Linked DNA regions of Homo sapiens. The protein of the gene in region 5 purifies or fractionates together with the protein of the main gene of each other region. This does not show direct contact. Each region holds a gene or a part of one and is shown on either strand. Other genes may lie near its edges.

Evidence for each region.
Region 1: the proteins of SCARB2 (region 5) and SMU1 purify together in Homo sapiens (affinity purification with mass spectrometry; one large-scale study listed by BioGRID and IntAct). This does not show direct contact.
Region 2: the proteins of SCARB2 (region 5) and CAPZA1 purify together in Homo sapiens (affinity purification with mass spectrometry; one large-scale study listed by BioGRID and IntAct). This does not show direct contact.
Region 3: the proteins of SCARB2 (region 5) and INF2 purify together in Homo sapiens (affinity purification with mass spectrometry; one large-scale study listed by BioGRID and IntAct). This does not show direct contact.
Region 4: the proteins of SCARB2 (region 5) and ITM2C purify together in Homo sapiens (co-immunoprecipitation; one large-scale study listed by IntAct). This does not show direct contact.
Region 6: the proteins of SCARB2 (region 5) and NOL6 purify together in Homo sapiens (affinity purification with mass spectrometry; one large-scale study listed by BioGRID and IntAct). This does not show direct contact.
Region 7: the proteins of SCARB2 (region 5) and DDX23 purify together in Homo sapiens (affinity purification with mass spectrometry; one large-scale study listed by BioGRID and IntAct). This does not show direct contact.

The regions. Positions count from the first base shown.
Region 1 is NC_000009.12:33,052,675-33,056,174, reverse strand, and holds part of SMU1 (WD40 repeat-containing protein SMU1), read left to right. Parts: coding exon 1-62; intron 63-2,884; coding exon 2,885-3,052; intron 3,053-3,500. UniProt on the Homo sapiens protein: Involved in pre-mRNA splicing as a component of the spliceosome. Regulates alternative splicing of the HSPG2 pre-mRNA. Required for normal accumulation of IK.
Region 2 is NC_000001.11:112,654,332-112,657,831, reverse strand, and holds part of CAPZA1 (F-actin-capping protein subunit alpha-1), read right to left. Parts: intron 3,368-3,500; coding exon 3,161-3,367; intron 1-3,160. UniProt on the Homo sapiens protein: F-actin-capping proteins bind in a Ca(2+)-independent manner to the fast growing ends of actin filaments (barbed end) thereby blocking the exchange of subunits at these ends.
Region 3 is NC_000014.9:104,696,118-104,699,617, forward strand, and holds part of INF2 (inverted formin-2), read left to right. Parts: intron 1-3,500.
Region 4 is NC_000002.12:230,874,942-230,877,344, reverse strand, and holds part of ITM2C (integral membrane protein 2C), read right to left. Parts: intron 1,726-2,403; coding exon 1,537-1,725; intron 489-1,536; coding exon 378-488; intron 1-377. UniProt on the Homo sapiens protein: Negative regulator of amyloid-beta peptide production. May inhibit the processing of APP by blocking its access to alpha- and beta-secretase.
Region 5 is NC_000004.12:76,175,825-76,179,324, forward strand, and holds part of SCARB2 (lysosome membrane protein 2), read right to left. Parts: intron 705-3,500; coding exon 613-704; intron 87-612; coding exon 1-86.
Region 6 is NC_000009.12:33,460,853-33,463,924, forward strand, and holds the end of NOL6 (nucleolar protein 6), read right to left. Parts: intron 3,069-3,072; coding exon 2,979-3,068; intron 2,590-2,978; coding exon 2,395-2,589; intron 2,283-2,394; coding exon 2,181-2,282; intron 1,962-2,180; coding exon 1,812-1,961; 3' UTR 501-1,811; downstream 1-500. UniProt on the Homo sapiens protein: Part of the small subunit (SSU) processome, first precursor of the small eukaryotic ribosomal subunit.
Region 7 is NC_000012.12:48,845,664-48,849,163, forward strand, and holds part of DDX23 (probable ATP-dependent RNA helicase DDX23), read right to left. Parts: intron 120-3,500; coding exon 1-119. UniProt on the Homo sapiens protein: Involved in pre-mRNA splicing and its phosphorylated form (by SRPK2) is required for spliceosomal B complex formation.

The DNA.
Region 1 (3,500 bases), on a different chromosome or scaffold from region 5:
AAGCAACATTTACACAAGATGGACATTACATTATTAGTGCATCCTCTGATGGCACTGTAAAGGTTAAGTATTTGCTATCAGTTTATTTTGGGATGTCTACCCCATCTTTGTCCTTTGAGGAGTTTTCAGTGGTGATAATGGGAATGATTGTGCTGTAGTAAACCTCTTTCCTGGCTATTTTAGCTGTAATTGAGGTGAGTCTGAGACAACAACAGTATTCTGTGGGTAATTCCCATTGGCCTTGGGACCCCAATCTCAAACCTTTTCAATCCAAACAAACTTTATCATGTGTAGGAAAAGAGGAAGGGTGAAGAGTCCTAAACTTAAGCCATCCCCCATTCACAGATACACATGGTGGTTAAATCTGTTTTGCCATAGGTATGGTCCACCTGCTAACAGTCAAATTCACGAAAGTCTCAGTGGCCTAATAAATAGATCTCTTTTTTGTTGCACAGCCTCACTGCACTCCTGGTCCCCAGATTTAGGGCCTTCCTAGTAGCATTTATAGAGGAATAGGAGAGGTGTTGAGTAAAACTAAGCCTTCTCCTAGATAGTTATTTAATAAGTAATTTGCTGAAAGTAATGGATCTTCAGTACCTTTAAAGATTTAGTTATTTGAAGAGAGGTTCTCATTTCCTAGAAAAGATATGAGAAACCCAAATAGAAAATTATTAGAGATCTTTGAGACACTATTTACATTCCGGACCTAATCTTTTTGAATTGTCTTATATGAGTGAGTACTTTGTGGCAGAAGATCTAGACATTTTAATAAAACATTTTAATACAAATATCTAGATATTTTAGATACATATTTAAGTATCTAAAATTCAGACAGCCAGGGGTGGTGGCGTATACCTGTATTCCTAGCTACTTGGGAGGCTGAGGTGAAAGGATCACTCGAACCCAGGAGTTTGAGGCTGCATTGAGCAATTTTCTCACCACTGTACTTCAGCCTGGGCAACAGAGCAAGAACCTGTCTCAGTCAATCAATAAATGTATGTATATATATATATGTATATATGTCAGACCACCGTCTGAAATTGCTGTTCATGATTGGAAATCGAACTGGAAACCCGAAGGCAGGAGATGTATGCTCCCTTGGGATGTATGGGGAAATCACACAGAGCTGTTAGTACTTCAGTCATGGGATTTGCTCTCATGCTATGCATATGGGCCTCACAACTTGTAAATGCCACTGGAAGATGGCTTATCTAAGGTTCCTTATTTTGTGGTCTTTCCCCCTTAGTTCTGCAGTGAGTGGGGCAAAGCGTGTCACTGACCTTTTGAATGGAAAACACTGGAAGCCTTAGCGTTCTTAATTCCTGAAATGTTCATTTTTTCTTCTAAGCAACTGGGCTTCAGAGGAGATTAGGGCAGGCAATAACAGTGTTGACACCAGGGCAACTGTTTTCTCCTGTTTATGGGTATTTATTCAACATCTGCTTTCTGCTAAGCTCCATGGAAGGCACAGAGGAAACACAGCAGAGTCCATGCCTTAGAGACTTTGTACCTGATGAATTGAGTGGTATCAGGACAATGCTATTTAATGTTTGATCCATCCCTTCTCTAAGCACATCTCAGATTTCTGTGCTACCTGATTTAACCCTTTCAGTTCATAGAACCCAGAAGGATAAGGTGAAAAGATAGACCGGGAAAAGTAATGCAAGTGGCCAAGAGTAGCTTCCACTTCAAAGTTCCTCATGTGTGTGTGCTAACATTGTGACTTCTGTTCAGTCATTGTCAGTATAAACTGTACATTGGAATCATTTGTAGCTTTTTAAAAAATGCCTATGCCTCACCCTAGACCTACCACATCAAAATCTCAGGATAGAGTCTCAAGCTAAAAAGCCTCTATTTGAGCCAGGCTTATTGGCACCTGCCTGTAGTCCCGTACTCAGAAGGCTGAAGTGAGAGGATCGCTTGAACTCAGGAGTTTAACGCCAGCAGAGGCAATAGGGCAAAATAGCGAGATCTCATCTCTTTAAAAAAAAAAAAAAAGAAAAGAAAAGCGGTTTTTGTTTTGTTTGTTTGTATTTTATTTTAATTATTTTACATAGAGACAAGATCGCACTATATTGCCCAGGCTGGTCTTGAACTCCTGGCCTCAAGTGATCCACCCGCCTTGGCTTCCCAAAGTGCTGACATTACAGGCGTGAGCCACCATGGCCGACCCCCTGTTTGGTTTTGATATCCAGACAAGGGTAGCTTTCTGGTTGTTTATGACAGTAGCAGTGTTGACAAACAACTAATTTTAAAGAGAGAGAGCTCTATTGGCTAAGGAAAAATGTATGAGAAAAGATCATAGATTTTTAAAAGTTTTTAAGTTTTAGTTTGTGACTTTGGCTTTGCCAATAAATCAACAAATACATGATGAATGCTTACTCTATTACAGTTGGTCCTCTGTATCCGGAACATGGATTCAACCAATCACAAATTGAAAATATTTGGGGAAAAAAAAGAAAATTCCACAAAATTCTAAAAAGCAAAACTTAAATCTGCCCCATGCCAAGTACTACATTGAATCCTTACAAAGGAAGTGGTGTGCGGGCATTGTATTAGATATTATAAGTAATCTAGAGATGATTTAAAGCATACAGGAGGATGTGCATAGGTTATATGCAAATACATCATTTTATGTGTGGGACTTGAGTATCCTTGGATTTTGGTATCTAAAGGGGATCCTGGAACCAATTCCTCACAGATACCGAAGGAAAACTGTATATGGCAGTGCTGGGTATTTGATTGGACCTAAAATCAAGTAAGAAACTTTTTTCCCCTGAATCATTTCTATTCTTTTTTAGTAAACTGTTAATATTTTAAACCCTAAAACTTTAGAAATTTTTATACCTAAAAAAGGTTTATAACTTAAATTTCTGTGTGGTAGATCTGGAATATGAAGACCACAGAATGTTCAAATACCTTTAAATCCCTGGGCAGCACCGCAGGGACAGATATTACCGTCAACAGTGTGATTCTACTTCCTAAAAACCCTGAGCACTTTGTGGTGTGCAACAGATCAAACACGGTGGTCATCATGAACATGCAGGGGCAGGTGAGTGTTCAGAACGTACCCTTGCACAGGAACTGTGGGCCATTCCCAAATCAGCACTTCCTGGTCCAGGCCCACCCTCCCAATAACCAAATTTGGGTTCATTTCTCTGTAAACCGTTTAAGCTGTATTTGTTTTTCAGATTTATTTATAGCTCCATAAAACATCTGTTTGGTATTTCAAAAGTGATCTCCTTTCCCCTGGATGTTTGTATATTAAGCACTTTCATCCTTCGGATAAAGGAAGCTCCTATCTGTCTTTAAGCCTCCTTCAGAACCTCACTGAAGATTTTAAGATAACAGTGTTTGTCTGAGTTAGGGGGATACAGTGTAGTATGGATTACCAACTCAGGACATCTCCCAGCTACCACGATCTAAAGTGGAACACTAATAGGAGAAAGGCAGCAGCAGTGTCCTCGGTGTATTTTTAATCAGAAAACCTGCAAGGTTCT
Region 2 (3,500 bases), on a different chromosome or scaffold from region 5:
TTACCTGAGGTCAGGAGTTCAAGACCAGCCCGGCCAACATGGTGAAACCCCATCTCTACTAAAAATACAAAAATTAGCCAGGTGTGGTGGTGGGCACCTGTAATCCCAACTACTAGAGAGGCTGAGGCAGGAAAATCGCTTGAACCTGAGAGGCGGAGGTTGCAGTGAGCTGAGATCATGCCACTGTACGCCAGCCTGGGCAAAAAGAGCAAAACTCCATCTCTAAAAAAAAAAAAGAATTAGGGGTTGCTGACAGCAGCCTAAGTAAAAGATAATTTCTAGAAGTGGTTGATTGGCTTCAGTGTGAAATGCCATTCGGAAGTCATGGACAAGGAAAAGGACACTGGACCAGGTAACTCAGGAACCATTAGTAAACTCAGAGCAGTTTCTGTAGAATGGAGACTAAAGTAAAAAATTAAAGGGTTCAGAAGTAGATAGAGGAAATGGCATTAGCAGGCAAAGAATATGTACTGACGTGGTGGTGATGCAGAGAGAGATGAGAGAAGGGAAAAAGTGGAGAAGAGGGAGAAAGGGCAAGGTGGAAAGGGCAGACAAAGAAGGAGAAATAGGCCGGGCCTGGTGGCTCATGCCTTGTAGTCCCTACACACACACAACACACACAGAGAAAAATTAGATAGGTATGGTGGTGTGCACCTGTGGTCCTAGCTACTTGGGAAGCTGAGGCGAACGGATTACAAGGTCAGGAGTTCAAGACCAGCCTGGCCAACACAGTGAAACCCCGTCTCTACTAAAAATACAAAAATTAGCCAGGTGTGGTGGCAGGCGCCTGTAATTCCAGCTACTCAGGAGGCTGAGGCAGGAGAATCGCTTGAACCCAGGAAGGGGAGGTTGCAGTGAGCCGAGACCACACCATTGCACTCCAGCTTGGAAGACAGAGTGAGACTCTGTCTCAAAAAAAAAAAAAAAAAATTTCTGTCAGTTTCAATCCTTACAAAACATGGGGGATTAGATGCCTGTCAGAGGACAATGAAAAATGTTTGGAACATACTATGTAGAAAATGTGATAGGGAATAAGGAGATGAAATTACGGACTACTAAGCAGGTCAGCTGAAGACATAAGACATAGGATACTTATATACAGCAGACACCATCACAACAATTCCATGACTTTCTGTAGGTCATTTGATAGCTAAGGACACAGTAGGGTTATTTGGTGCTGGAGCTCTCCAAATTAAGAATGGGTAGTGACAAACTTTGAACAGGTAACAAACAATAAATTCAAAGTATATTTAGGATTAAACAGTCAATTTCTAAATGGGAGTCTATCATGTCTCCCCTTTGCAATACTGGCTTCCCAACAGGAATTCTATACTTGTCCAGTCCACCATAATGGGTATTCTCATTAAAAAAAAAAAAAAAAAAAAAAAAAATCAAACATAATGACACCTAGCCTAACATTCATCTAACATTTATGTAGAGCTTACTTTGTGCCAGGCACTGTTCCAGGCATATATTACATATATTACTAATTCATTAAATCTTCACAACAACTCTATGAGATAAAAACAATTATTTCCATTTTACAGTCAAAGAATTGAGGCACAGAGATGTTAAGTAATTTACCTAAGGTCACACAACTAATTAATTGGCAGGGCCAGGAATCAAACCAGTTAGTAAGGCTTCAAAGTAGGTGCTCTTAACTGTATTCTAGACTGCCATGTAATTCATCATCATTGTATATTTAAAATATTCTAGTGAAAATTGCTGATTTTCCCACAACAAAAAAATGATAAATATGTATAGAAATCCATGTTATTAGCTCAATATAGCCATTCCACAATGTATACATATTTCAAAATATCATGTTGTACATATCATATTTTTGTCAATTTAAAAATAAAAAATATTCTAATCAATATTTTTCTTAATATGCCATAATTTTATAAAGGAAAAATAATAAAGCCAAATTTATCTATTTTTACAGTCAAGAGGGAGTAAAAGAAAATTAGGCCAGGTGCAGCAGCTCACGCCTGTAATCCCAGCACTTTGGGAGTCCGAGGCAGCTGGATCACCTGATGTTAGGAGTTCGAGACCAGCCTGGCCAACATGGTGAAGCTCTGTCTCTACTAAAAATATAAAAATTAGCCAGGTGTGGTGGTGGGCACCCGTAATCCCAGCTACTCAGGAAGCTGAGGCAGGAGAATTGCTTGAACCCAGGAGATGGAGGTGACATTGAGCTGACACGGTGCCCCTGCATTCTAGCCTGGGTGACAGAGTAAGACTTAGTCTCAAAAAACAAAAGAACAACAACAACAACAGCAAAAACAACAACAAAAAGAAAATCACTCCTGATTAAAAAAAAATTGTTTGGTTTTTTTTGTTTTTTGTTTTTTTGAGACAGTGTCTCACTCTGTTGCCCAGGCTGGAATGCAGTGGTGTGGTCTCAGCTCACTGCAACCTCCACCTCCCTGGTTCAAGTGATTCTTGTGCCTCAGCCTCCTGAGTAGCTGAAACTACAGGTGTGCACCACCACATCCAGCTACTTTTTGTATTTTTTAAGTAAAGGTTTCACCATGTTGGCCAGGCTGGTCTCGAACTCCTGGCCTCAAGTGATCTGCCCACCTTGGCCTCCCAAAGTGCTGGGATTACAGGCATGAGCCACCATGTCCAGCCAATTGTTTAGTTCTAATAGTTTTGATTACTGAATATAAACATCTAAACTATGTAGAAGTAGTTTGTGTAAAAATGCCTATATCAAAAAGCCATAAATATGAGCAAAAGCTCTCTCAACAATCTTAGTATACCATTTTTTTCTCCATGTCCAAACCAAAGACCTTTTAGATCTGGGTAAAAATACAAACAAAAAAAAATTAATTTAAAAGGTTAATTTAAAAAAAAGAAAGAAAAAAAGAAAAACCAAAGACCTTTTTCTGATGGGTGTAAGGCATTTTTCATAAGTCAAATGTGAAAACAGAATACACTGATACCTAAATTTTTTGTGCATTGGGATTTTAAAAAGAAATTTTCCATATAAAAATTTCATTTATACCCCTTTCCAAAATGATTTAGGGAATAAAATGCAGAGGAGAAGAGAGCATGGCTAAGAAGAAAGTAGGGATGTTTGGTAGGCCAAAGCCTCCAAAGGATAAGGTAAATATAAGAAAACACTCTCTGATAACGAAGCAGTCAGATACTTAACAGTACAGAAGCCGTTGGAATAATGGTCTTTCACATAGGCTCTTAAAGCACTGTCACAGGATTCTCTCCAAGACTTCAGACCTCCATCTGCTTCTTCTGGCTGGGGGTCACTTGCTTCTTTCCGTAAGTGGTCAAATTTAAAGGAAATTTTGTTTCTTGGATCTAAAAATCTGCTATTACCCAGGTCACCGTGCTCTGTAATTAAGACCTTCCAAAGAATCATTAAACATATGAGTAACTGTAAAAAAGACAATTCTTACTGCCTTTTATGAAACACATCAATAAAAATTCTGAGGCAGTTAACTTTTCATTTAGTCAGATTTCTTTCATATTAATTTTTC
Region 3 (3,500 bases), on a different chromosome or scaffold from region 5:
ATCATGATGCTGCTGAGAGCGCCTTTCTGCCCACCTGCTCCCAGGGGGCCCTTCTGTCCTGCTGTGGGTCCTCACAGTGGCCCGGGGGCCCTCTTTGCACAACAAGCGGAGTTCAAGATCTTGGAGGGCTTTGGAGGCAGGAGCCTTGCACTCCATCCAGATCTTGGGGACTGCAGGTGGCATGAGGGCTGGAGTGCTTCTTGGGTGTGAGACGGGCCAGGTGACAGTGAGGACACAGCCAGCCCTCACCAAGGCCCAGTGCGCCCCATGCCCCTGGACACGTGGCAGTGGGTGGACCCCCATCCTCACCTGCCTTGAGGCCCCCTGTGCACAGACCCTCCCTGGGCCTTGCCGGCAGTTGGTGAGCCACCAGGTCAGTAGAGGTCCCTCAAGGGGCTGTTGGCCTGGTGGGGAAGGTGACACATGCTGGAGGCTCAAAGGAGCTGGGAGTCTGAGTGTGAGGGAGGGGAATGGGGGTCATGGTAGGGCAGGTTCAGCTCCAGGTGCCTCCACCGCCCTGCAGGGCCTGGGCTGCCCAGAACCCCGGGGTGCTGCCAGGAACGCGTGCAGTCCTGGAGATCCATGGGTTGCCAAGCAGTGGAAAAATTGGGGCTCTCGGAGGAGCTAAAAATACAGTGTGGCAGCCCCTGCCTCCTAGTTCCGGAATCCTCTCCTGCCGTTCTGCCCACCCACCCCGTGGAAGACAAGCTCCCTCCCTGCACCCCCACCACCAACGCTGGCTCAGGGCCCAGAAGCACCCAGCCCTGTGCCAGTGCCAGAAGGGCGACACCACAGCTGCCTGCCCACTCCCAGGCAGCAGCCCCCCACAGGTGCTCATGTGCCCAGCCAGTGCCTGCCCTACCCCCGCCACTGCTTCAGGGTCCCCAGAGCCCCTTGGTCCCAGGCACAGTAGGCAGTACCTGCCACCCCAGGGCTGCCAGGCTCAGGGCTTGGCCTGTTCCTCGTGGGGAGCCTGGACCCAGGCAGACCTCTCCCTTCCCTACCAGTGGGGACTTCACAGGGGAGGGGGCTGTCCCAGGCAGACTCAGAACATGTCACAGCGGGGGCCTCCAGGCCCATTGGTGCTGGCCGAGGGCATAGGAGCTCCCACACTGTGCTGTGGAAGGCCCTCCTCGCCTGGCTCCTGGGAGGCAAGTGAGGGAGCCGAGGCCTGGGGGCTTCAGTGGCTGGCTCAGGTCCCTCGCGTGCTGGGATTCAAGTCTGGGTACCCTAACCCTGGCCTGTGTGCCGCTCAGAACCATGGGCCCATGCAGGAGCCCCCAGCTACTCTCCACAGCTCGGTGCTGGGCCTGCCTCAGGAGCCCACACTCCCTGGCTCTGGTTTTCTGTCTGCACCGCAGGGGCTAGGCACATGGCTGCAGGTCTAGTGAAGGCCAGCATGGCCCTGTCCCCACCCACACCACACACTCAGCTTGACTGTTGACTGCTAGGCGGGGCGGTGGCCCGGTGGCTTCCCGAGAGTCAGTGCAGCTGCCCTAGCATGTAGGCATTCGGATGGAGGTGCTGGCATCACCACACCAGGCTGGCCAGGCCCAGGCCCAGAGGGGGACCCTGCCTGCCAGAGCTAGAGTCAGGGGAGAGGCATGGCCCCGTCCTCTGGAAGCCCCAGGCTATTGGTTGACAAAAGCAAGTGCTGAAGAACCATGGTGATGTCCCACTAGCATGGGTGGGGTGAGCCCCTCAGACCTCAGAGTCTTCATCTGCAAAAGACCCTGCCCTGTGCAGTTCCATTGGTGCTGGTGGACTGCCGGGGGGGGTGGATGGGACGCCCCTTCTTGGTGCCCTGACCCTTTTGCTGTCCAAGGCATGGGGTCTGGCCTGAGCCATGGGTACTGGGCCCTGCAGAGCCTGGATGGTCCTGCCCTGCCTCAGCCAGAGCTGGTGCCGGCTGTAGAAAAGATTGCGAAGAACGCAAATTCCTGTGCCTGTGGGGAGGTGGCCACGCCCTACAGCCGGGGCTGGGGAGCTCTGAGGACACATTCCTGCGCTGGTGGCCCCGCCAACCCACTTTCCAGATGGAGAGCAGAGGGGAAGGGTAGCCTGCCCAGGGGCACACAGCTCAGCAATGAGACTCCCGCCCCCTTCCCTTCTCAGTTGGCACTGGCACCTTCCAGCGTATTGTTCCCCATAGCCCCGTGCCCCTGAGATCAGTAAACTGTGGATTCCTTCTGGAATCCTTGCAGAAGTGGACACCACCCCCCAGTGAGAACAGGCAAGGCTGTTTTTGCAGAGCTCGCTGTAGCAGGGAGTCGGCCACCGCCACCCGCGTTTAGCAGAGACTCACAGGCGGGCGGGGGAGTGGGAAGCCTCATGGTTTTCTCATATGGATAATTCACTCTATACATAGAAAGCTTTTTATAGACACAGGGAAGGCTCGGGGATGCCCTGAGAGAGGCTGCTGGCTGGAATTTGGGCTCCTATGAGATGAGACAAAAATCACAGAAGCTGTCAGTTATTACCCAGGTCCCAGCCATTTGGGGCCAGTGGCCAGATTGCGGGTCAGAGTGCTGCATATATGGTCTGGCCGTGGTGTGTTTGCAGGTTCAGCCTCATGCTGAAAAGCAGTTGGAACATTCTCCGGTGTAGAGCCTGACGGGGGGCCTGGGTGAGATCGGGCAGCCTTGGCAGCACCACAGAAGGAGGAGAGCAGCTCCGGCCTCAGCCTCCGGGGCCTCAGCCGGAGCCCTGTCTATGCCGGGCCGCAGCCCAGCGAGACCCTGTTACACTCACTGCCCCCAGACAGCACCCGGTGGGACACGGCCAGCTGGGGCAGCTCAGACACAGAGCCAGGCACCCAGGCACGGGGGTATAGGAACCTGATGGGCAGGAGGGCCAGTTTCCTCCCACCGTGGCTCCACCCCACTGACCAAGGGGGATCCTCTTGACTGGGGTCTTTCAGGGGCTTGCACAGGGCAAGGAGCGCTGGGCAGTGCCAAGAGGGGCAGTACTCAGGTCAGGGAGCATCTTCTGTGTCCAGGGACACCCTGGGGCCTGGGGCACGGTGGCTCTCGGCGGCACTGCTTGTCTCTAAAAGGTCAGGATTTTTTGCATGGAGGGACCCCCGGGGCTCTTGGCTGGAGAGGACACTCTGGATGCCAGGGGCCGGGCCTGGGAGAGTTCATAACTCCGTCCACTCAGCCTGTGCCAAGGGGACAGGGACTCCGGCCAATGGAGGCGGGGGAGGAAAGGAGGGTCAGTTCTGGGGCCTCTTTAGGCAGCAACAGCCAAGGCGGGTGGGAATATATGCAGAGGCCCGGCTGCCTGGCTCTTCATGGTGGTGGGAGCAACCCTACTGCCACCAGGAGGGGCGTTGGGGACCTGAGGCTGCCTGGGAGGGACCCGGCTGTCTCTGGCAGCTCAGCGGTCAGCAGCGATGAGAAGCCAGGGGAGCGTGAGGAGCAGCCCAGGACAGGGCCCAGAGTGGGTGGGCAGAGGTGGCCGGAAGGTCTTGCGCATCTGGGTGAGTGGACGGCCACTGG
Region 4 (2,403 bases), on a different chromosome or scaffold from region 5:
CCTCGCCCGAAATGCCAGCCCACCTCCCTCCTCCAGAGGCCCCTGGGCTGGCCCTTCTGATGTCCTCAGGCACTTCCTGCCTGTGCCCGGTGCCTGCACCTGTGCTGCCAGGAGCAATGGCATGCGCACGAGTCCGTACCCAGGGTACAACCTTGAACACTAAGGAAGCCGGTCTCGGGGCATTGACTCTGGAGATGTGGAAGCAGGGGGATAGCAGAGGCGAGACCAATCTGGGTACAGGGCCCAGGTGCCAGCAATGTCTCTTGCTCCCCCAACCCCTGACACAGGAACTTCCTGTACCTCAGACCTAGCCTCCATGAGACAGGGGGCAAGGGAGGGACAGGATGCTGCAGACATCCCCCCAACCCCCTGCGCACCTTCACGTTCATGAGGAGCTCCCAGAAGTTGCGAGGGGGCAGCACAATGGTGGTGTTGAGTTCGATGACATAGCACTTGTCCAGGGAGATATCATGGTACGCAGTCAGACCCTGGCAGGAGAAGGGGTTGGGTCAGTCTCTGCAGGAGGTGACAGCTGACCCAGGCAGGGCTGCAAGAAGCTTTGGCCAGCCAGGCGCGGTGGCTCATGCCTGTAATCCCAGCACTTTGGGAGGCTGAGGCGGGCGGATCAAAGGTCAGGAGATCGAGACCATCCTGACTAACATGGTGAAACCCCGTCTCTACTAAAAATACAAAAAATTTGCCAGGCGTGGTGGTGGGCACCTGTAGTCCCAGCTACTCGGGGGGCTGAGGCGGGAGAATGGTGTGAACCCAGGAGGCGGAGCTTGCAGTGAGCCGAGATCGTGCCACTGCACTCCAGCCTGGGCGACAGAGCGAGACTCTGTCTCCAAAAAAAAAAGCAGCTTGGCCAGCAGGGGCAGGAGTCCCACCATGCCTTCCTGGGACCCTGGGCCTTCAGGAGCAGAGTCCTCTCCAGACTCCTCAATACCTGGGCGGGCACTCCCTTTTCCTGGTCTTCTCTTAGCCTGTTGTAGAAGGTGCCACATGATAGAGGAAAATAGCAGCTGATTGCTAAACGCCTCTGTTGTTATAAAGCTTCTTCTCATGTTTACAGAGCTGAGGTTTGGGGAACATGGTAACATCCCAGCTGTGCATTTATGAAACCTGTGAGGGCCAGCCATTCCTGGGACAGCCTGGACCCCAGCGAGAGATGCCCTGTCTCAGGACCCATGGGGGTTACATGAATACGCATGAGACCCACTCTGCAGAGACCCGCTGAGCTGTACACGCAATGCACTCGATGGTGAATGTACTACCCCTCGATACAACGCACTGGCCCTGCCATGACAGCCAGCGTGCAGCTGGCAGGAGGCTGAGGAGAAAATCAGCCTCGGCTGCTTCATACTCAGCAAGAACCATTGTTGCTAACAGGAGAAAAGCAGTGTCTTGAAGACCCTGGTAAGCCTAACCGTAGACACCTGCTGTACTCCGAGGAGTCTCCTTTCATCCCTGCTCCCCTTGCCCTGAGTCCCCGGGACACCCTCCCACCCCCCACCCCCAGGCCCTGGCCAGCCTCACCCGCTGGAAGTCATGGATGATGTCTGCAGGGTCACCGCCGCCAAACTGGGGCACAGGCACGTTGATGCGCTCGTAGTTCTCGTCGAGGTAGATTTTCACATCCTCTTCCAGCTCCATCTGAGTCCGGACCTGGGAGGACAGGGAGTCCTCATACAGCACACCACAGCGGAAGAAGTTATCTCGGGCCAGCTGAGCAAGGCGGAGAGACAGACAGACAGTCAGAGAGGCTGGTCATACACGCACTCCGTAAGGCCCCCTCTTGCCTACCCGTCCGCTACATGCCCCAAAAGCCTGCGGAAGCAAGAAGAGCAGGGACTGTGAGACCCATTTCGCAGATGGAGAAACTGAGACGGTGGGGCATCAGGTCAGGGTCTGGGGCTGCCAGTGAGGAGATGAGCTGATTCTTGGGCAAGGCGCTTCCCAGCTTCACAAACGGAAGGGAGGATGAGCTGGGTCTGCCAGGTTCTAGGTGGCAGACCTCTCTGGGCCTCAGTTTCCCCATCAGTAAAGCATGATGATCCCTAAGGTCCCTTCTGGCCTCCAAGTCCTTGAGTCGGTGACTGGGAAAAGGGGTGGCCCAGCAGGACTAGGACCTGGCCACCTCCGTGCCCTCCACAGAGGTGCAGACACCAGAGAAAGAGCCTGGGGTTGGCAGGGGGTCAAGGACGAACCTAAGAGTTGGGCACCTACGCCTGTGCACGACTGCCTTTCCTGTCACCTGCTGTCCTGGCCTGCAGACCTGGAGGGGCCTAACACGGCGGGTGGGGAGGTGGAGCTGGAGGCAACACTGTTAAGAGTCTTGTGCCCCTATCACGGTTACCTCCACATCCAGCCTCGGACAAGTGCCATCGCCCTTCCTGGATATCC
Region 5 (3,500 bases):
CATCTTTGGTTATTAGTGGGTGAAAAGAATCTCCATCTGTTCCATTAATCATATTGCACTTGTCTGTTATCCACCAGTCAAGTGACCTATAATTGATAAGCACAAGAAAGAGTAAAGATGATCACATTTGAGTTTAGATTCTCTTAAATGGTCAGGACTTTGCAAGATTTAACTGGAGCTGTCTATCCACAGTATCTTATTCATACACAGACACAACAGTTTTAATTAGATCAAGGGGGAGAAAAAGTAGGTCCCTGGCCCAAATCAGCTTTCATAGAGGCAATGGCCAAATAGCCCAAAACATGTGGTGGTTTGAAAAGTATTTGTGCTGTAGCTACTACACATCACTCAATGACTACTAAGCAAGAGTGGGACTTTTCACTGGCCTGTAATTCATGCCTGGCCATGATAAATCTACAAATCACTAATATTTAATCTGTAAGATGTTTTACCACCATCTTGATTTGTAGAATAATAATTACAAGACTATTTACATGTTTTTATATTTTTCATCCAAAAAAGGCTAAACACATTTTTAAGCAATGTAGAAGTAGACATGTAGTTTAAATGAAAACTGAAAAAATAATTCCACTGATAAATCATTTGACTTACGTTTTCCCATTCCATTCCACAATTTTTGTAAAGTTAAGGTAACTGTCTTCTCCAGTTAGAAAAACATAGTCTCCATCATTAGTCCCATTTTTCTGAAAATATGTGAATATGATCATTTAAAGTAACTGTGATAATTTTATGACAACTTGGCTAGACTATGGTGCCCAGTTGTTTGGTCAAACACTAGCCCAGATGGTGTGGTGAAGGTATTTTGTAGGTGTGATTAATATCTACAATCCGTTAACTTTAAGGGAGGTTACCCTCAATAATGAGTGGCTGGGCCCCCTCCAATCTGTTCAAAGCCTTACAAGCAAAAACAGAGGTTTCTTAGAGGAGGAATTCTCCTCAAGACTGCAACATCGAAATTCTGCCTGGATTTCCAGGTTGCAGCCCACCCTACAGATTTCAAACTCAAGACCACATCATCAACTTTTACCTGAGTTTCCAGCTGCTGGCCTGCTCTATGGATTTCAGACTTACCAGCTCCCATAATCACATAAGCCAATTCCATAATATAAATTTCTTTCTCTCCCTCTTTCTCATCTCTACATATACACCCTCTTGATTCAGTTTCTCTGGCAACCCTAACTGATACAGTAACTAAAAAATTTAATCTTCATCTAACTGTCCTACTAGGGCCTAACTGCTACACAAGACTGAACCAGGACCAGAAAATAGTGACTATTTTGCTAAATACTATATTAACCATATTATTATTTTATGGTTTTAAAAAGTAGGAGCTCAATTTTAAAATGGGCAAAGGATTTGAAGAGACATTTCTGAAAAGAAAATATACTAATGGCCAGAGAGCACATAAAAACATGTTCAGCATCATTAGTCATTAGGGAAATGCAAATCAAAACCACAATGAGATACCACTTCACACCCACTAGGAGGGCAATTAAAAAAAAAAAAAAGAAAAATAGTAAGCGTTGGTGAGGATGTGGAGAAATTGGAACCTTTATACATTGCTAGCAGGAATATAAAAATGTTGCAGTCACTGCAGAAAACAGTTTGTCAGTTCTTAACAAAGTTAAACAGAATTCATAGGACTCCAAAATTCCACACCTATGTATATACTCAAGAGAATTCCACTTCAAGGTATATACCCAATGTTCATATAAAAGCTTGTATGAACAAATATTCATAGCAGCACTTCTAATAATAGCCAAGAAGGAACACAACCCAAATGTCCATCAACTGATAAATGGATAAGCAAAATGTGGTATATCTACACAACGGAATATTCCTCAGTTATAAAAAGGAATGGAACACTGATACATGCTACAACATGGATGAACCCTGACAACATTACACTAAATTTAAAAAGCAGACACAGAAGGGCATATATTATATGACTCCATTTATATGAGATGTCCAGAATATGCAAATTCACAGAGCCAGAAAGTAGATTAGTGGTTGCCAGGGCCTGGGAGAGTAAGACAGGAATAGGAGTGACTGCTAAGAGAGTATGCAGTTTCTTTTTTGGGATAATGAAAATGTTCTGGAATTAGCAGTAATGGTTGCACAACCTTGTGACTATACTAAGGACTACTGAATTGTACATTTTAAAATGGTAAATGTTATAGTAAGTGAATTATTTCTCAATAATAACAAATTTAAAAGCCTAAGTCCAGGACCAGGACCAATTATACCAGAATAGCTACACTGGAAGAAGACGGTATTAATATAGCCCTATTTTCAATTAAGGTTTCTTCAATTGTATATTCTCTCCAAGTTATACTTCTTAAGGGCACATACAGACACTACATTCCTAAAATTCTTTATTTGGGCATGTAGCTATGATTTCTCAGAAATAGCACAGGTAGTAGCTCCTCTATAATAATAGGAGTGAACAATTGTTGAGTATAATATTCCTGGCTCTGTTCTAAAATTTTTGCATGAATCATCTCATGAAATCCTCACAACCACATAAGATAGTGTGGCTATCAGTCTGGTGAATTCAATGATGTAAAAACAAAAAAAGTGAGTTATATAATGCAAATTATCTGAGAAACAGTGAGATATTAGCAACAAGATCTACTTGGCTGATGGATTGAAGCCACTGGGAACAAAAGGGCCTCGAGGGAACCTTTGCATAATATCTCTCAGTAGGAGGCTCTCCTGAAATTATTTCTAGAAGGGAGGTTCAGTCAGGGCTTGACAGGAAATCTGTGCTTCCTCTGGTCCTGTGAAGCTGTATTCCTCTGAGACAGGACCCTCTAGGGAACTCCTGCCTGGTCTGCTTCTCCCGAATGATGCATTCAGAGTTGGTGAGGCCCTACTTTTAGGACTCCTGTCTCTCACACATATAATTTTTTAAAACTTGCTCACAATTCTATTTTAACAATTTCTACGTTTTATATAACCTTGAAGGCCCAGGGACACAATTATTGCTGTTTGCCATAAAAACTGGAATGCTACAGGATTACATGAAGAGGGTAAGACTCTTGAACAGGCAGAGCCAGAAAACAGCTACAAATTTAAAGCTGAGGAGACCCATCACAATCCCAGAGCACACCCCTAATCTAATCCTCTTCCTGGGGTTATTTTATCTTTTACCAACTTCCCAACTATCCACTGCACTCCAGGGTTTTTGTTTTTGTTTTTGTTTTTGTTTTTTTTTTGGCTTTTTTAGACAGAGTCTTGCTCTGTCACCCTGGCTGGAGTACAGTGGTGTAATTTCAGCTCACTGCAACCTCTGCCTCCTGGGTTCATGCAACTTACCTGCCTCAGTCTCCTGAGTAGGTGAGATTACAGGTGTACATCACCACAGCTGGCTAATTTTTGTATTTTTAGTAGAGATAGAGTTTTGCCATGTTGGCCAGGCTGGTCTCAAAGTCTTAACCTCAAATGATCCACCCACCTCGGTCTCCCAAAGTCCTGGA
Region 6 (3,072 bases), on a different chromosome or scaffold from region 5:
ACCCTGGGCTGAGCTGCTCCATGGCAGTGACAGTAGAGGCAAGCAGTGATTCACAAAGACCAACAGTTGAGACAGAACTGGAGGCCAGAGTTCCCACATGCAGCTTCTCATCTTGAGGATGGAGCTTGCTAGCCAGGCATCAAAGTTCCTCACACAACGGGCCCCTGCGCTGAGCCTGTTCTCTCACTCAGAAAATGAAGGTAAATGAAAGTACCTACTCCATACGGCTCGTTATGACTGTACGACAAGTTTCCGCACATAAGATACGGATACCACCACCTAACCCCGCCTGGCACCTATTAAGCCCTCAATAAACGTCAACTCTATAATCTCTTAGGCTTTCTCTTTCACCGTCACCACCCACTTCTTGCAGGCAGATTTCACAAATGGATTCCCTTTACTCTGCAATCTTCCAGTGGGCTTCTCTGCCCCCCATCTGCCTGTGCTGGATGGCCCCTGAGCAAAGCACTGTAATAGGTGCTAGGAAGGACACGAAGAAGTCTATGTTCAAACATGTTCTTGCCCTCAAGGAGTTTACATACAAGAAACCAGGTTAAAATTATGTGAAAGGGGCAGACAGGCCAGGAATACGGGGGAAATTAAGCAATTTAACTTTTTATTTAAAAGAGATGGGGTCTCTCTGTTGCCCAGATTGGTCTAGAACTCCTGAGCTCAAGTGATTCTCCTGACTCCCTAAGTGTTGGGATTACAAGCATAAGCCACCACGCCCAGCTGCAATTTAATTTTAAATCAGAGTTCAAAACAATAGAATTTATGCCACTGTGTGTGCCTGCCAAACGAACTGAACAGACAGTAACTGCTCTAATAGTTCAGAGGAGGGAAAGATCACCTCAGGCTGGGGGCGAGGGATGGGCTTAAGGAGGGGCACTATTTGAGCTGAGTCTGGAAAAACAGCCAGAATTACAGGAAGCAGAGAGGCTACCAGAAAGTGGGTGTAGACCAGACTGAAAGGAGGCAGCATTCTCCTCCTTGGGCCCTGGGAGCTCCTGGGGAGTAAGACTTGAGTCTCCCCCATCTCTGCAACCCCACTGCAGGTACATAGTAGTGGCAGTTTGTGACATGAACGGGCAAACAGCCAGGGCAGATGCAGCTAACGGGTAGCCCCCAGTGCTTTTTGCACCTCTCCAAGATTGGGTGACTACCAGTCCCCTGACCCCTTCACCTACCCAATCCTTTCCTGTCCTCGGTTCTTTTCCACTGTCTCCACCCTGGGAAGTGGCATCAACACAGGAGGGCATTGTGCTCCTTCAATGTGGTCTATTCATACACATATAGCCCCTTTCCACTGCTCAGTGTCGGTGATGTGACTCAGAAGGGCCACATTTTCGCTGGGTCCCATCTAAAGGCCTGACACTGCAGTGAAGGGCATGCTAAGTCTAGGCACAGGTCCTGGCAGCAGGAAGGAGACAGAGCCTCTCCCAGGCACACATCCCCTTCTCTGTTTCTGGAAGAAGACTAAGAAAGGAGTGGGAAATCGCAGGGAGGTCCAGGCCCAGGGCTAATAGGTGGATGGATCTCCTGGGTTCAGTTCCTTCTCTGAGCTGGCTCCCACTCCTCTTCTGGGATGGTGAGGCCCAGGAGACTACATGGGCCACCATGCCCCTGCCCCAATGCTGGAGCATCAGAGAGAAAGTTGGGGCTGGGTTTTGTTGGAGATGATTCAGCATGTTCAGCCAGCAGGCCCTCCATGGAGGATTCATGTCCAAGGAGGGTGGAGGTCATCCTACTGACATCTTGCTCTAGAGGTCCAATGTCCTGCTGTCCGTCTACAGCTTGCTCCAGAGCTGGGATCACACAGTCCACCTCTCACTTCGGGCCTCCACAGTCTGCACCAGGCCTTCACCCAGCACAGCAAAGTCCTCCAGGATTGCTTCAACATTGGGCACCATTACTAGCTCCCCACCTCGAGACATCACCATGCGCCCCTTTGTGCTGGAGGCCTGGGGAAATCAGAGAAGAGATGTGGGTTGAGTGTCACAGCGGCACACCCAGAGACACCAAGCTGGGTACAGAGTGGGGGTGGTGGGGATAGAAACACAAGCCCATACACTCCGCACCTGACACGGGTTTGCCCATAGGACAGACTACACACAGACATGCATGCCCACACAGAACCACGTGCACACACTCAGGAACACAGCTGTCACCAGCCAGCACACCTTGAAGGGCTGCGGCTGGAAGCTGGTGGGCTTCCAGAGGACACCAATCACCTCTCCACCATGCTGGTCATAGAAGAAAAGGGCCAGATCCCCAAAGGCCTCCTAGAAAGGGACAGAACAGAGAAGATTATAGGCAGGCATTTAAGAGCTCCTCCACAGCCTCAGCTTCACCTGGAAGTCCCCTCCCCAGGTCATTCAGCTGTTTAGGACCAACCCTGAGCTGCGTCAGATAGAGCTGAGGAGGATCATAGCCCAGCACGGGCATCAGGGATGAGGGCCCCGGCTGGCTGAGCAGGCCCCGGCAGAAGGAGGCAGCTGGCGAGTCCACAGCCTGGCGGTGCCGCGGGATATGGCGAGGAGACAGGCGAATCAGCACGTCGTAAATGTCCAAGGGCGGCCGGAACACTGTCTAAGGAAGGGGAGAAGGAGGGGTCAGCAGGACCCCCTTGACTGAGGAACTGGACCACAAACCTCTCCACACGCCCACCTTGGTTTCCTCCTTCCATCTGACCACCCTCTATGGGCCCACCTGCCCATTTGAAGACTGAAGCACCAAGACCCACAGAGCAAACAGCTGTTGCATAGCCCGGCAGAAGGAGCACAGGCTAGAAACAGGAGACCCAGATGGAACCCAGGTTCCCCAGGCTCTGCCACCCCAGGCACCACAGCAGCTTCAACACCTCCTCTGTTCAGTCTCACCAAACAAGGGGACCGGGTCTCCTGTGAGATCCCTGAACGCTGAACTTCCAAAGACAGAATCCCCAGAGGCCCTGGAGTCACTGCTGGTCAGAAGCTTACCCTGATGTCCCCAGGTCCCCGGGGATCCATGAGCTGCTTCTCTAACATGGGCAGGGCTTCAGCTGCCAGGACCACAAGCTGCTGCAGGATCTGC
Region 7 (3,500 bases), on a different chromosome or scaffold from region 5:
GGGGAAGACTTCCGGTCCCGGTCTCTATCCCGCTCTCTGTCAGGAGTCCGTGATCGCTTCCTTTCCTCCTTGGAAGGTGATGCATCACGGTCCTTTTTGTCAGCCAGCTCTCCTGCCATCTGTAATGAGTAGGAAGAGTACTTACAATGTACTAGGCACTGCTCTAAACTGCTTATATATAATTCAATTACCCTCAAAACAACCCTATGAGGTGGATATATTAGTATGTCTACCGTACAGATGAGAACGGTGGAGCTCAGGTATATAAAGGAACTTGTCTGAGGGCAGACAGGTAGTGGCAGAGTTGCAGGCAGTCTGGCTCCACAGGCCATCGTTACTCACTATATTGTCTCCCTGTAATTCCTTTCAGAGTCTCACTCTGTCACCCAGGCTGGAGTGCAGTGGTGCAATCATAGGTCACTGCAGCTTCAACTTCCTGGGCTCAAGCCATCCTCCTGCCTTGCCTAGCTAATTTATTTTTTTTATAGACAGGGTCTCACTATGCTGCCCAGGCTGGTCTTAAATTCCTGACCTCAAGCAATCCTCCTGCCTCAGCCTCTAAAAGGCTGAGATTACAGGCGTGAGCCACAGTGCCTGGTCGATTCCTTTTTATATATTCATTTCTAAATATGTACAGTGAATATACCATGTTTTTGTAATTAGACTACAAAAGAGTATTAAAAGAAGTGTTAGTGTATGAACAGTGTACCAACTATTTCTAGAAACATCCTATATTGCTTACTTTGAAGTTTATTAGGTCTGCCAACCCACTAGGATCAGTTAGCACTCATACGTCTGAGAGAGATAAATTTTCTTGAGCTCATAAAGAAAGCTCAATGGAGAAAAAAGTTTAACTTTGAGATCTGGATTACGTTATAATTAGCACCACAAGGAAAACCTGAATTTAAGTGGAGAAACACACTTTTACTCAGATTAAAAGAAATGTACCTCTAATTATGCAATGGGAAGAACTTGGTGAAGGGTACACAGAACCTCTATACACATTTTTTAACTTCCTGTGAAACTATAATTATTTCAAAGATATATATTTTAAATACCCAAAACTAGAGGTTGCAGAAGTCCTGATTGACATTCCCTATTCAGATTTTCACAACCTTGGTCATCTGCATAACCCAGTTTTGTGAAAGGTTTCAGCAGGAATTTTTTCTGTCTCCCTCCTACCTGGGAGACACCGAACACCACTCCCACACTGTCAACTCTTCTTTGGGCTATGAACTCTAGTTCAGCCAGGAGCTAAAACTGCAGCAAGCCTGAATCTGCAACCACCTCATCATCATCCCAAAGACTTGGGATACATTTCTCGCAACTTATTTTATCCCCAAATGGTTCAGCTCGAATGGTTCCTTAAGCTTTAGCTTACAAGCCCCTTTCTCATGCCATTCCCTGCCATATATCCTTAAGAAAGATTGTATAAAGATGAGAAAAGAAAAATGAACAAGAAGCACTTTCAAAAGGTGAGGACAACCCATTTTATCTCACAATCACCTGAGAAATGACTGATTGTTCTGTATCAGTACATCATGGCTATCACACAGAAATACCTATGTCTTGGGCTGGGCATGGTGGCTCACCGTGTAATCCTAGCACTTTTGGAGGCCAAAGCGGGCAGATCATGAGGTCAGGAGATTGAGACCATCCTGGCCAACACGGTGAAACCCCATCTCTACTAAAAATACAAAAATTAGCCAGGCATGGTGGCACGTGCCTGTAGTCCCAGCTACTCAGGAGGCTGACGCAGGAGAATCACTTGAACCCAGGAGGCGGAGGTTGCAGTGAGCCAAGATCATACCACTGCACTCCAGCCTGGCAGCAGAGCGTGATCCGTTTCAAAAAAAAAAAAAAAGAAAGAAATACCTATGTCTTGACTGGGTGTGGTGGCTCATGCCTGTAATCTCAGCACTTTGGGAGGCTGAGGTGGGTGGATCGCTTGTCCAGGAGTTCGAGACCAACCTGGGCAATATGGCAAAAACCCATCTCTACTAAAAATATAAAAAATTAGCCACGCATGGTGGTACACGCTACCCAGGAGGCTGAGGTGGAAGGACTGCTTGAGCCCGGGAGGCAGAGGCTGCAGTAAGCCGAGATTGTGCCACTGCACCCCAGTCTGGGTGACAGGGCAAAACCCTGTCACACACCAAAAAATAAAAAATAAAAAAAACACTTACAGCCCTAAGAAAACAATCCCAAAGGAAGGCTATTTTCTCTGTACAGCATCCTGGATTTCATTCATTCTTTCAACAAATATTCACCGAGCACCTACAAGGTGCCAGAAATTGTTGTAGGTAACGGAGACAAAGCAGTAAAGAAAACAAAGTCTCATGCTGGGCGTGGTGGCTCACGCCTATAATCCCAGCACTTTGGGAGGCTGAGGCGGGCAGATCAAGAGGTCAGGAGATCAAGACCATCCTGGCTAACAGGGTGAAACCCCGTCTCCACTAAAAATACAAAAAAATTAGCCGGGCGTGGTGGTGGGCGCCTGTAGTCCCACCTACTCGGGAGGCTGAGGCAGGAGAATGGCGTGAACCCGGGAGGCAGAGCTTGCAGTGAGCCGAGATCATGCCACTGCACTCCAGCCTGGGTGACAGAGTGAGACTCCGTCTCAAAAACAAAACAAAACAAAAAACAAAAAAAAAAAGAAAACAAAGTCTCCTACTTCATAAAGCTTAAATTCTAGTGTAGCGGAAAGGATTTTAAATAGTAATGAATGCTAATGAAGAAAATAAAACAGTGATATGATGGGTAGGGGTATAACAAGAGATAGATGGCTCAGGGAAGAAGTTTTAGTTGACATTTAAGCTGAGACTTGAATGATGGGAAAGAGGGCCATGAAAAGATCAGGGTAAAAAACCCTTGTTAGATACAAGAAATGTGAACTAGCTTAGCATGTTTGTCAGGTTTGTTTTGTTGTTGTTGTTGTTGAGACAGGGTCTCACCCTCTCACGCAAGATGGAGGGCAGTGGCACAATCACGGCACACTGCAGCCTTGACTTCCCAGGCTCAAGCGATCCTCCTGCCTAGGCCTCCCAAGTAGCTGGGACTATAGGCGCATGCCACCACACCTGACTAATTTTTTTTTTTTTTTTTTGAGATGGAGTCTTGCTCTGTCGCCCAGGCTGGAGTGCAATGGCATGATCTTGGCTCACTACAACCTCCACCTCCCAGGTTCAAGTGATTCTCCTGCCTCAGCCTCCTGAGTAGTTGGGATTACAGGCGCGTGCCACACCACGCCTGGCTAATTTTTGTATTTTTAGTAGAGGCGGGGTTTCACCATGTTGGCCAGGCTGGTCTCAAACTCCTGACCTCAGGTGATCCGCCCTGAGTGCCCAAAGTGCTGGGATAACAAGCATGAGCCACCATGCCCGGCCCCAACTAATTCTTAAAATTTTTATTAGAGACAAGGTCTCAATTTGTTGCCCAGGCTAGTCTTGAACTCCTGGGCTCAAGGGATCCTTCGGCCTCAGCCTCCCAAAGTGCTGGTA